Linked DNA regions of Homo sapiens: all the other regions are linked to region 3. The links come from fine-mapping of genetic effects on gene expression. A gene starts in region 3. Each other region holds a variant in brackets. All regions are shown on one strand. Distances are from middle to middle. Region 1 has its middle 32 kb from the start of SERPINB6. Region 2 overlaps SERPINB6 (serpin family B member 6). Region 3 holds the start of SERPINB6 (serpin family B member 6).

Region 1 (4,239 bases), 32 kb before region 3:
CCGCTTTAAAGAACTTGTAACACCACACGGGTCTGTGGCTTCATTCCCGAAGTCAGTAAGACCAATGAACCCACCAGCACAGTGTTTTTGGTGATGGTTGTTTTTAGCAACCTTAACTGTAAAAATTTCTCGTTTAAAATCATGAATTACGTGTTAAGGTTTCAACGTATGAATTTGTGGAGGGGGCTGGGCACAATTCACTGCATAGCAAATAACTGTACTTTGAGAATAACGTATATTTAAAGTTTAAATTGTGAATTTTAAAAATTCAATTTGATCTTTTCCAAACATTTTTAAAGAACGATTTGACAGTCTTAGGTCCTCTAATAAAAATCACTTGCAGTGAATTTTTAAAAAATGGACAAGTAATAGTTGTGTAGACTTTTGCAATGTTATGTTTTGATACATGCTTACATGGTAGTGAAACTGGGCAAGTTCCCTTGTTCCTCTCGGGATGTGTGATGGGGCTGATGGCTCACTTTAGTGCCCTGCTGCTCCAACTTTTAGGAGAGAATACAGACAGGTAGGCTGTGGGGCTCCAACCCTTTTGCAGTGTCTAGGGCTGAATGTTTACAACTCCTGAAGCTCCACTGGGCATGTGTTAGAGTGCTTTTTTAGTTTAGCTATCCATAGGTGGCTTGTGTTAACCAGTTCAATCAGACCCCTACCTTATCGCAAGGACAGAGGGCTTTCTGTATCCTGGGGTTCCTGCCTTGGTGTACCAGAAGAATCGGATCACATGTGGGCTTGGAGAATGAGTGCAAGGTAAGTCTGGCAACCTGGGCTCTCCTTCAACTGCCCCCGTCAAACTGCGTTGTTCTGCCGGTGGATGGCCTGCCTGCATGCCGGTGCCTGCTGGTGCATCCCATTCCTCTCAACTTCCAGCCGCTCGTGTGTTCCTCCACTGATGTACTCCTCTCGATATGCAGCCACCTGTGTGTCTGCCTGCTAGCGTCTCAGGGTTTTACAGGCACAGGGTAGGGGCGTGGCAGGCCAGGGTGGTCTTGAGAAGTGCAACATTGGGGCAGGAAAACAAAAATGCCTGTCCTCAACTAGGTCCGTGGGCACAGGCCCAGGGTTGGAGCCCTAGCCAGGGACCACGCCCTTCCCCCCCCCGCCATGTTATTTAAAGAGAGCACACCCTTCCATATCAGTGGAATGGCTAAAACAAGCTAATTCCCATACGCATTACCTCATCTATTTTTTTTGTGATGAGAATGTCAGAGTAGGCGGTTAGACGTGAGCAGGGCATGCACGGGCCCCCAAGAATGTTGGACATTTGTCAAGCCACAGTCACAATTATAAATCTGTCCCTCTGAAATAATGAGCAAGACAAGGAAGGGACCCCAGAGCTGTCTGGTTCTCATTGGGACCGGGATTGAAGGGCATAAAACTATCCCTCTAGGGTAATAAGTGGCCATGGCTGGCGCTGGGAATAACAGGAGTCTTGCAACAGACAGAAGACACCTGGAGTTAGCAAGGCAGTCCCAGACAAGGTTTTGAGCATGTGCAGTAATAGAAAGGTGTGAAATTTACCCGGTGTATGACTTTCCTCTAGGGGCGCTCGACCAGTAAGGGAGAATTGCATCTAATGGGCATGCGCACAACTTCAGTAACCATCCAGCGCCTACTGGGAGGGCTACTGGGCATGCAATACTTGAGGGCCAGCCCGGGAGGTGAAGAACAAAGAGTGGAGACAGCCTGGAAAAGAGTAAGGGGTATAAAAACTGTAAGCAGGCCTGGGGTGGTGGCTCACGCCTGTAGTTCCAGCACTTTGGGAGGCTGAGGCAGGTGGATCATGAAGTCAGGAGATCAAGACCATCCTGGTTTACATGGTGAAACCCTGTCTCTACTAAAAATACAAAAAATCAGCCAGGCGTGGTGGCAAGCACCTGTAGTCCCAGCTACTCGGGAGGCTGAGGCAGGAGAATCGCTTGAACCCTGGAGACAAAGGTTGCAGTCAGCTGAGATTGTACCACTGCACTCCAGCCTGGGCAATAGAGCGAGACTCCGTCCAAAAAAAAAAAAAAATCAAAGCGGAAGCAGCACTTGATTTTTGAAGTCTCCTGCTTGACCCTCTTCCAAGCCTACTTTCTCCAATGAACTTTCACATTGCTTAAAATAAATGTTCCCTTGCCTGTCTCTCATTTGAATTCTTTCCTTTTAAAAGTACAAAGTGAGAAGTGACAGCATGCTGGCAGTCCTCACAGCCCTCGGTCGCTCTGGGTGCCTCCTCTGCCTGGGCTCCCACTTTGGCGGCACTTGAGGAGCCCTTCAGCCCGCCGCTGCACTGTTGGAGTCCGTTTCTGGGCTGGCCACGCAAGGCCGGAGCC[G/A]GCTTCCTCAGCTTGCAGGGAGGTGTGCAGAGAGAGGCGCCAGCGGGAACTGGGGCTGTGCGCGGCGCTTGCGGGCCAGCTGGAGTTCCGGGTGGGCGTGGGCTTGGCGGGCCCCGCACTCGGAGCAGCCGGCCGGCCATGCCGGCCTCGGGCAATGAGGGGTTTAGCACCCGGGCCAGTGGCTGCAGAGGGTGTACTGGGTTCCCCCATAGTGCCAGCCCACCAGCGCTGCGCCCTATTTCTCACTGGGCCTTAGCTGCCTTCCCGCGGGGCAGGACTTGGGACCTGCAGCCCGCCATGCCCGAGCCTCCCTGATGAACACCACCCCCTACTCCATGGCTCCCAGTCCCATCGACCACCCAAGGGCTGAAGAGTGTGGGCGCATGGCGTGGGAGTGGCAGGCAGCTCCACCTGCAGCCCCAGTACAGGATCCACTGGGTGAAGCCAGCTGGGCTCCTGAGTCTGGTGGGGACCATGGAGAACATTTGTGTCTGGCCCAGCGATTGTAAATACACCAATCGGCACTCTGTATCTAGCTCAAGGTTTGTAAACACACCAATCAGCATCCTGCATCTAGCTCAAGGTTTAGTGAATGCACCAATTGACACTCTATATCTAGCTACTCTGGTGGGGCCTTGGAGAACCTTTATGTCTAGCTCAGGGATTGTAAACGCACCAATCAGCGCCCTGTCAAAACAGACCACTTGGTTCTACCAATCAGCAGGATGTGGGTGGGGCCAGATAAAAGAATAAAAGCAGGCTGCCGGAGCTTGTAGTGGTAACCCGTTGGGGTTTTCTGTGCTGTGATAAGGTTTGTTCGTTTGCATTTGGCGTCTGCGTTGCCTTTATGAGCTGTAGCGCTCACTGCGAAAATTGTCACTTTATTTCTGAAGTGGGTGAGATGACGAGCCCGGCAGGAGGAACGAAACACTCATCTGTGAAAGTTGCAACTTCATTTCTGAAGTAGGTGAGACGACTCTGTGAAAGTTGCAACTTCATTTCTGAAGTGGGTGAGACGACGAGCCCATTAGGAGGAACGGAACACTCACTGCGAAAGTTGCAATTTCATTTCTATAGTGGGTGAGACGACGAGCCCAGTGAGAGTGAACGAACAACTCCAGGCGCGCCGCCTTAAGAGCTATAGTATTCACTGAGGGTTTGCGGTTTTATTCTTGAAGTCAGTGAAACCAAAAACCAATTTCTGGGTGTAAAAAGACCAAGGTTCTTGCAAGGTTGCTCCTCCCAAATTCCTTCAGATAGGGGAAGACACACAGTTTACAAGAACATTTTGAATCTTACTCATTTTCAAGTATATAATATATATTTTTAATTGTAGCCAACATGACTTACAATAAGTAAACTTAAAAAGATATAAGCCACCCATGTTGGGTGTGGGGGTACATGCCAGTAATCCCAGCTGCGTGGGAGGCTGAGGTGGGGTAGATTGCTGGAGTCCAGGAATTTGAGGCCAGCCTGGGCAACATAACACCCCATTTCTGAAAGTAAACAAAGCCCTAATTATGTTCATTTTCCCCCTTCATTTTCAGATTTCCCATTTTGGCCACGCTTCACATGCGACACATATAGAAGTACACAGCAGCTTCCCCCCTTACCTGCAAGGGATATGTTCAGAGATCTCCAGTGGATGCCTGAAACTATGGATAGTACTGAATCCTATATATACTGTTTTTTTCTATACATATAATAAAGTTTATAAATTAGGTACAGTAAGAGATTAAAAACTCAAAATATGAGTTAAACTCATATGCAATATAATATATGCAATAAAATTGAAATACTGTCAAACTCTGTAAAGTATTTGAAGAGATTTGTTCTGAGCCAAATGTGAGTGACCGTGGCCTCTGACACAGCCCCTGGAGATCCTGAGAACACGTGCCCAAGGTGG
Region 2 (4,239 bases), 20 kb before region 3:
GACACCCCCGAGTGGCTCCTTGCTAGCACGCCTCGCTCACAGCTTAGCTGTTACCGTTCTCAAGTCAGTGGTCTCGTCCGGAAGCATGATGATCATATTCAGTTCCTTGCCAACATATGGAAGCACCAAGATTTGGGTAAATATTTCTCCTATATAGGTCTTCTTAAAAGTAGATTGCTTAAACATCATTTGCACAGGTTTCTCCTCATTCTACAAAGAAAACAGATAAACATCAAGTTGAAACAAGACCCCACTGACACATGGGACAAATGTGTCGGAGCTGGCCACTCTCTGCAGGGAGAAACGCAGCTCGGTTTCTCCCCAGCTTCCAGAACACCCGGCAGCGCCTGCTCTGCCATCTTCATTACCTCAACCTCCAGAAACTGGGGTGCCCAGGGCCCAAACCCAACGTGTCTTTCCTCTCATTGATCGCATTCAGTCTCATGGCTTTAAACACAATATCACACCAAATTTACCTCCCGCCTGGGCCTCTGCCCTGTCCTTGGGCCTCCTGCATTTTACTGCCCACCTGCACCTATGTTTGGACATAAAAGAAACTCCCAGCGCCACCTGTAATGCGGCACTCCGTAGATCCTCCAAGTCGGCTCTGTCTACTGCAACTCTGCCCATCTCAGCTGAGGGCAGTGCCACTGTCCAGTGGTCAAAAGCCCTGGAGTGCCCCTGACTCCTGTCTTTCTCTCACACCCTGTGTCTGACTCACTGGCAAATTATATTGGCTCTACCTCGAGAATATAACAAAATCTGACCTGTTCCTTCTGCCTCTGCTGCTACCAGCCTAGCCCTGGAATATTGTGATAATATGATTGTGATTGTTCCCAGCACAGTGGCCAGAGGGGCCCGGTAGAACCTAAGGCAGATCACATTGTTCTTTGGCTGGACACCCTTCCCTGGCTCCCCATTTACTCGGAGCAGGAGCTGAAAGTCCCTAAAAAGCCTGGAATTGTGATAAGAGCTCGTCCCCAGTTCCCTCTCCCTTTGCTTATCTGCTACAGTCACAGAGGCCTCCTCACTGCACTGCCAGCAAACCCAGTTCATCTCATCTCTACGCAGTAAGCTTGTCCTCCAGAACCTGGAGAGTGAACTTCTGCCTCTTTACGGTCTTTGTTCAAAAACCACCTTGGCAGAGAAGCTGTCCTTGATAGATCTTACCTGACCCTACACTCCCACCCCAAACACAGATTCCTATCCCCTCCCTTGGTATGTCTCTGTACCATTTACCACTGTCTAATATGCTCCTATTTTCTTATTTATGCTTGCTGTCTCTCCCCCAAGAAAACATAAGCTTCACCAGGGCAAGCATGCTTTGCTTGTTTTGTGCATGGCTGAAAAATACCTAGCACCATGCCTGATACATAGAAGACACTCAGTCAGGTTAGGCATGGTGGCTCATGCCTGTAATCCCACCATTTTGGGAGGCTGAGGCAGACGGATCACCTGAGGTCAGGAAATCGAGACCAGCCTGGCCAACATGGTGAAACCCCACCTCTACTAAAAATAGAAAAATTAGCTGGGCATGGTGGTGCGCTCCTGTAATCCCAGCTACTCGGGAGGCTGAGGTAGGAGAATCACTTGAACCCGGGAGGCAGAGGTTGCAGTGACCCAAGATTGCACCGCTGCACTCCAGCCTGGGAGACAGACCGAGACTCCATCTCAAAAAAAAAAAAAAAAAGGCACTCAGTCAATCTCTGCTGAATAAATGATAAATGCATAAACGAATTAATGAGCTGGGATGCTAAAAAGGCCAGGCAACATTTACACATCTCACCAGAAAAAACTGCACTGGTCACCAACCCCAGCCAGCCAATGAGAAAGACTGGAGGCCAGGAACCACACCCCATCCAACAATCCCCCTCAGTTCCTGACTCGGAGCTGCTCCTGTGAGTTGAGTAAATACCCTGCAATAGGCACAGTCAAAGACGCCGTATGGTCCCCAGTCTCTGGTGTAGCACATTCTTCTGTGTTAAATGGAATAAATAAAATACACTGCGGCGGCAGCTTTCTGCTTTCACGTGGTAGAGGCTCGCCTGGGCTGGCCCTTAGCCTTTGGCTAGAGCAGTCTCCTGGGCCTCGGCTGCCCCACTCATTTCCTTGGCCAGCAGTAGGCATGTTTCTTCCATAACTGACCAGACAGGAACTATTTTCCGGTTTGTGGCTACATGTACCATCTCCGTCACAACGACTCAGCTGTTGTTACAGGATGAAATAAGTAAGTAAATAAGCATGGGCCAGGCGTGGTGGCTCACGCCTGTAATCCCAGCACTGTGGGAGGCCCGGGCAGGTGGATCACCTGAGGTCAGGAGTTCGAGACCAACCTGACCAACATGGTGAAACCCCGTCTCTACTAAAAATGCAAAAATTAGCCGGGCATAGTGGCACACACCTGTAATCCCAGCTACTCAAGAGGCCACGGCAGGAGAATCACCTGAACCCGGGAGGCGGAGGCTGCAGTGTTCCGAGATGGCACCACTGCACTCCAGCCTGGGCAACAAGAGAGAAACTCTGTCTTGGAAAAA[A/T]TAAAAAATAAAAAAAAAAAATAAGCATGGCTGTGTTTCAGTAAACCTTTAAAAAAAATTAGGTGGTGGGCTGGCTTTGCTGTAGGCTGAAGTTTGCTGACCCCTGCCTTCAGTAATTCCTCCCTGCACCCCTTCAGGGTCCAAAGCCTCCAATCTTGCAATATAAAAAGATCTAACCTTAGTGACTGAATGATTCACTAAATACACAATTATATAGACAAGTTCCAGTTTATATAGAAGGTAATGAAATTAAAATAAGAATCTGTATCAACTCAAAATCTGTGCCCTTGGAGGTACACCTCTGGCCTCAGGCTGGTACGCTCAATACTGCAGCCCCTTCCTTCACCCTTCTTCACTGCAGAACTCAGAAAGCATGACGGGATTCCACATCTCCCCAAACCCACAAGACCTATAGTTCTGGCCTACACCATATAGAAAGCAGCTTTCCCTTTCTGAAACGCAGAACCACTAAGGGGAAGGTTTAGGCTCCCCTCCCCTCCCTTGTTCCTCCCCCTCCCTGCCACCGGGACTGCTGAAGCCAGCTCAGCCATCTTGTGACCATGAGGAAGAAGGCGACGTGCTGAGAATGGTGGAGCCGCCTCCCTGGGATCATCGCCCCAGTGCCAGACCAGCCCAGGTCTCACCTGCCTCCAGACCTCCTAGCAGGGGAGATGAGCTCCTAGGAGATAAACCATGGTGAACCGGGGTTTCTGTTATCTGTAGTCAAAGCCCTTGTACATCTTGTTAATCATTAAATTTTAAAGAGAGAAATTATTTTGCCAGGGGAAAATAGCACAGTTCATTTCAGAATAAAGCTTCAAAGAAAATAATTCTTTCTGAATTGCGAGGAGAACAGACAATGAAAATAAATTTCTTGAAAAACTGAAGGCTCAAGTTCAAGTTAGCCTGGAAGATCTAACTATGGTCAATGATCAAGAATACACTGTAATTAATCTATTCTGTTTACTTTGTCTATGTTCAAAAATTTCTATAGTTAAAGAAAAACAAAACAAGAGACAATAAAGAAGATTCAGTGAGAGGAAGATAAAGGGCCATCAGCAAATGACATCTTCCACGCTGGAGGTGGTTAATCTCAGTGTCTATCTACATGTTTGGTTTGGTTGTTTTAAAACAAAAATCTGTACTTATCCTTACTATCAAGAGAGGACTGAATATCACTCATCGGTTCAGCATTTACTAAGCACCAGCTACGTGTCTGGCACTTGTCAGAGAGTCCTCCCTGCTCAGCCTCAATTCAGCAGGCTGAGTTGTTCCGCTCCTGCAGTGTGGCACGGAGGCCAGCAGGAGGCGCGGTAGCGGGGCTTCCCGGGACGCCGCCAGAAAGAAAGGAGTGGGTAGGTCCTGATGGGAATGAAGCTAGAGAAAAGGAGGAAATGTCCGCTAGAAGATGGCACGCCATATCTGGAGTCTGAGCTTTAAGACCTTGATCGAGCCTGAGGGCTGCAGCTTCAGACTTGCCCTGTAGGTGGCAGGGCGGATGCCAGGCGCCCAGGGACACGAGGCCACCCAATGGATGTCAAGCAGGAGGGGCAGGGACAGAAAGGCCCCACGGCTGCAGACGCGGGAGGCCCCGAGCCGGAGACGCTCGTGTGAACACAGGCGCTGCTCCTGTCACGGCCCCTTACTCGCCTTGCTGACTTTAAACAGTCTCTCCTCGGTGTTCTCCTTGTCAAACTGTTCATCC
Region 3 (4,239 bases):
CTATCGAGGGCTTTCTGTTATCCTTTCAGCAAACGTGTGAGTAACAAGGATGCCTGTTTCACAGTCACGTTGCAAACTCAAGACCTGTCAATGGCTTTTTAAGGACCTACTTCTTTAGCTTCAGTAAATAAGATAGCTAAGTGTCCTTCATATATATATGTGAATACACATGTATATATGTACATAGACAAATATTTATGCAAAATTAATTGTTTCAAAATTTAAAAACTATACCATTTAAAAATAAAAAATGATATTTAATCACAGACATAAAAACTGGATATTAAAGTCTTATTAATGAACAATTTTATGTATTTTTTAAACAAGCCTAACAAATCTATCCTGGCATCACTTTTTTTTTCCTGTAGCATCACCAGTAACTGAGCAATGTTCACAATTGATTTTATTCAACTAATCAAGTCTTAATTTTTTTTTAGGTGTCACTATTGAATTGTGCTTCTCAACTTCTATTAAGGATGCCTTTATTTCCTACTAAATTTAACCATTTAAAGACTGGTTTAATGGAAACTTGGACTTCCTGCTTTGTCCCTCTGTTTCCTTGTGCAGTGTGTATGTGTGTGTGTGTGTGTGTTGTGTGTGTATGTGTTTAATATATCTGAGCAGCCTAACATATAAATGGGAGTTAAACATTATTTTCAGGCTAGGCGCAGTGGCTCACATCTGTAATCCCAGCACTTTGGGAGGCCAAGGCGGGCAGATCACGAGGTCAGGAGTTTGAGACCAGCCTGGCCAGCATGGTGAAACCCCATTGCTACTAAAAATACAAAAATTAGCCAGGTATGGAGCCCGGGAGGTGGAGGTTGCAGTCAGCCGAAATCGCACCACTGCACTCCAGCCTGGCAAAAAAAAAAAAAAAAAAAATTTTCTTTCTTTGGATGCCTTGGCTTAATCCCAAGTGCAGTAAGCCTGGAAATGTAAGGTGTGTGGTCTTCCCTGGGACCGTACAACATCTGCTTGGGTGCCCTTATTATTACATATGTGGAAAAGAATGTTGGTTCTATTCATGCTAATTTCACTCTACTGTTACTGGTCCGTGTTAACTGTTTCATGCTGAATTGTAATAAAATGCATTGGAATTGGCCTTAACTTAAAATACTTAGTTTACATAGTCGAGTATGACCAAAGTACTTTTCTCTTTGGTGGCACATCACAATGGATGCAATTACTCAGATACGGTCCTGAAATGAGAACAAACGCCATCTATGCTGATAACAGCAGTCACTGGTGTTAATCCCAGCACACATAAAAGCCCCAGCAATACAAGGCCGGCCCAGGACCTTAACTAGAAGGTCACTGAACACATCAGATCTCATCGCATCAGGCCTGACCCCCACCAGAAAGGATGCAGGCAGCTGCAGGGCTGTCATTAGGCACGAGAGCATCCCAGAAAGCAAAAGTGCCCAAAAAATGGACTCAGATGCCCCCTCGCATCTGAGTATTCCTGACAGCATGTGAACATTAATTATTAATTTTCTGTACCTCAGTTTTCCGAAGCCAATCTTTAGGACAAAAAAAAAAAAAAAAAAAAGGAAGAAAATAACTTAAATGCCAATTTGTAGTTAAAGTTTCCTCTTTGCCTTGAAGACATCAAAGCCTGTAATAGTTTGCCTGTAGGGAGTTTAATTCAAACACAGAGCGGTAAGGAGATCCGGGCTGGTCCACACGATCGTCTCCACAGGTCTGGGCGACCTGAAAGTGCTGCGGATTGGCCAAGCCCAGCACGGCCAGTCCAGTGAACACACGCAGGGGGCCCGGATGGCACCGTTTGGCGCCGAACCCCTCGGCCTCTCTCCGCCTCCCGCCCGGCTCCTAACACCCGGCGCCCCAAGACTGAGCACGCGTCCTCCGGGTCGCGGAGCGGGCGAGGGGTCACCGAGGCCGCGGGGCCGACCGGGGTCACCTGTGGCCCGGGAGGCTCTGCGCCGCCCCCATCCCGCGCCGGCCGCCTCTTCCGTGGGCGCTGGGCCTGGGCGCCCGGGGTCCTCGGGTCCGCGGCGTCACCGGCCGGGCTCGCGGCCACGCACGACTCACCCGGCCGCGTCGCCGTTCTCTGCCGCTGCGAGGCTCCGGAAGGGAACCCAAGCCGGACGCTCGCCCGGGCCCCCGCCCCGCTGGGACTGCTGGGGTCACAGCCCCGCGCGGCCACGCCCCATTCTCGGGGCTCCAGCGTCCCCGCGCGCCGTCGACCCACGCGCGTTCCCGGCCCCGCGCGACCCCCACCCTGCCCCCCTCCCCGCTCGCGCCCCCGGCTTTCCCGACTTTGGAGCGACAAACCCAAGCCAGCGTGTCCGAGCGGCTCCCAAGCCAGACACGTACTCCAGAGCGGGGAGCGAGCGAGCAGAACGGCGGGCAGAGGCGCCGGAGCCGCCCCGGACCTCAAATACTCGCGGGGAGGCGGGCGGAGTCCCGGGTCTCGAGCTACCGTCGCCCGTCCGGAGCGCGAAGGGAGAGGCGGGGCGGGACGTGCGGGTCAACCCCACCCGCCAGCCGGAGGGGCCGCGAGTCCTGCCCGGAGGCCTTGACTTTGACCACAGTACAGGGCCCCACCAGCGTGTTTATGGTGCCTCTGTGGAGACTGAATGCTGGCCTGTTTCCAGAAAAGGGCCGGCTCCTGATACACGGCCATCCACTGGGGAGTGCAGAACACGCATTTAAAAATGAGCAGACTAGATACAGGTCACAAAGACTTTGCTGATGAAACAGCTTGCGGCAAAGAAGCCAGCCAGGGGCGGGCGCGGGGCTCACGCCAGTAATCCCAACACTGGGAGGCCGAGGCAGGCGGATCACTGGAGGTCAGGAGTTCCAGACCAGCCTGGCCAACATGGCAAAACCCCGTCTCTACTAAAAATACAAAAATTAGCCGAGTGTAATGGCGCGTGCCTGTAATCTCAGTTGCTGGGGAAGCTGAGGCAGGAGAATCACTTGAACCCGGGAGGCAGAGGCTGCAGTGAGCCGAGATGGCGCCACCGCACTCCAGTCTGGTCCGTCTCAAAAAAAAAAAAAAAAAAAAAAAAAAAAAAAGTAGACTAAATAGCTTTTGCAAAGCAAAAGGAATAGTCAAGCAGAGTAAACAGACAACCTACAGAGTGGGAGAAAATCTTCACAATCTATACATCCGACAAAGCAGTAATATCCAGAATCTACAAGAAACTCAAACAAATTAGCAAGAAAAAAAAATCCCATCAAAAAGTGGGCTGGCATGAATAGACAGTTCTCAAAAGAGGATATGCAAATGGCCAACAAACAAGAAAAAATGCTCAACATCACTAATGATTAGGGAAATGCAAATCAAAACCACAATGTGATACCACCTTACTCCCGCAAGAGTGGCCTTAATCAAAAAATCAAAAACTCAAAAAATAATAGATGTTGGCGTGGATTTGGTGAAGAGGGAACACCTCTACACTGCTGATGGATAGTACAACCACTGTGGAAAATAGTATGGCGATTCCTTAAATAACTAAAAATAGAACTACCATTTGATCCAGCAATCCCACTACTGGGTATCTACGCAGAGGAAAATAAGTCATTATACAAAAAAGATACTTGCACACGCATGTTAATAGCAGCACAATTCGTAATTGCAAAAACATGAAACCAACCCAAATGCCCATCAATCAAAGAGTGGATAAAGAAACTGTGGTATGCGTATACGGTGGAATGCTACTCAGCCATAAAAAGGAATGAATTAATGGCATTGGCAACCTGGATGGGATTGGAGACTGTTGTTCTAAGTGAAGTAACTCAGGAATGGAAAACCAAACATTGTATGTTCTCACTCATAAGTAGGACCTAAACTATGAGGATACAAAGGCATAAGAATGATACAATGGACTTTGGGGACTTGGGGGAAAAGGGTGGGAAGGGAGTGAGGGATAAAAGGCTACAAATTTGAGTTCAGTGTATACTGCTAAGGTGATAGATGCACCAGAATCTCACAAATCACCACTAAAGAACTTACTTGGCAGGGCGCAGTGGCTCATGCCCGTAATCTCAGCACTTTGGGAGGCCAAGGCAGGCAGATCATGAGGTCAGGAGTTCGAGACCAGCCTGGCCAGCATGGTGAAACCCCCGTCTCTACTAAAAATATAAAAAAATTAGGCATGGTGGCACACATCTGTAGTGCCAGCTACTGAGGAGGCTGAGGCAGGAGAATTGCTTGAATCTAGCAGGCGGAGGTTGGTTGCAGTGAGCTGAGATCATGCCACTGCACCCCAG

What was found. PIP is the estimated chance that this variant, and not a neighbour inherited with it, causes the effect.
Region 1: its variant is the best candidate, but not a certain one, in a credible set for the expression of SERPINB6 in whole blood (INTERVAL, PIP 0.88).
Region 2: its variant is the best candidate, but not a certain one, in a credible set for the expression of SERPINB6 in B cells (Fairfax 2012, PIP 0.56).

What each region holds. Positions count from the first base shown.
Region 1 is chr6:2,937,268-2,941,506 of GRCh38, forward strand. No RefSeq gene overlaps it. Among named protein-coding and RNA genes, the nearest start is that of SERPINB6, 32 kb to the right of the region's middle. The variant G/A (reference allele first, on the strand shown) is at 2,334.
Region 2 is chr6:2,948,860-2,953,098 of GRCh38, forward strand. SERPINB6 (serpin family B member 6) reads right to left here. Exons shown (of 7, transcript NM_004568.6): 5 at 4,185-4,239; 6 at 55-210. Among named protein-coding and RNA genes, the nearest start is that of SERPINB6, 21 kb to the right of the region's middle. The variant A/T (reference allele first, on the strand shown) is at 2,535.
Region 3 is chr6:2,969,196-2,973,434 of GRCh38, forward strand. It overlaps SERPINB6 (serpin family B member 6), which reads right to left and starts at 2,372. Exons shown (of 7, transcript NM_004568.6): 1 at 2,338-2,372. RefSeq lists an enhancer at 2,153-2,677.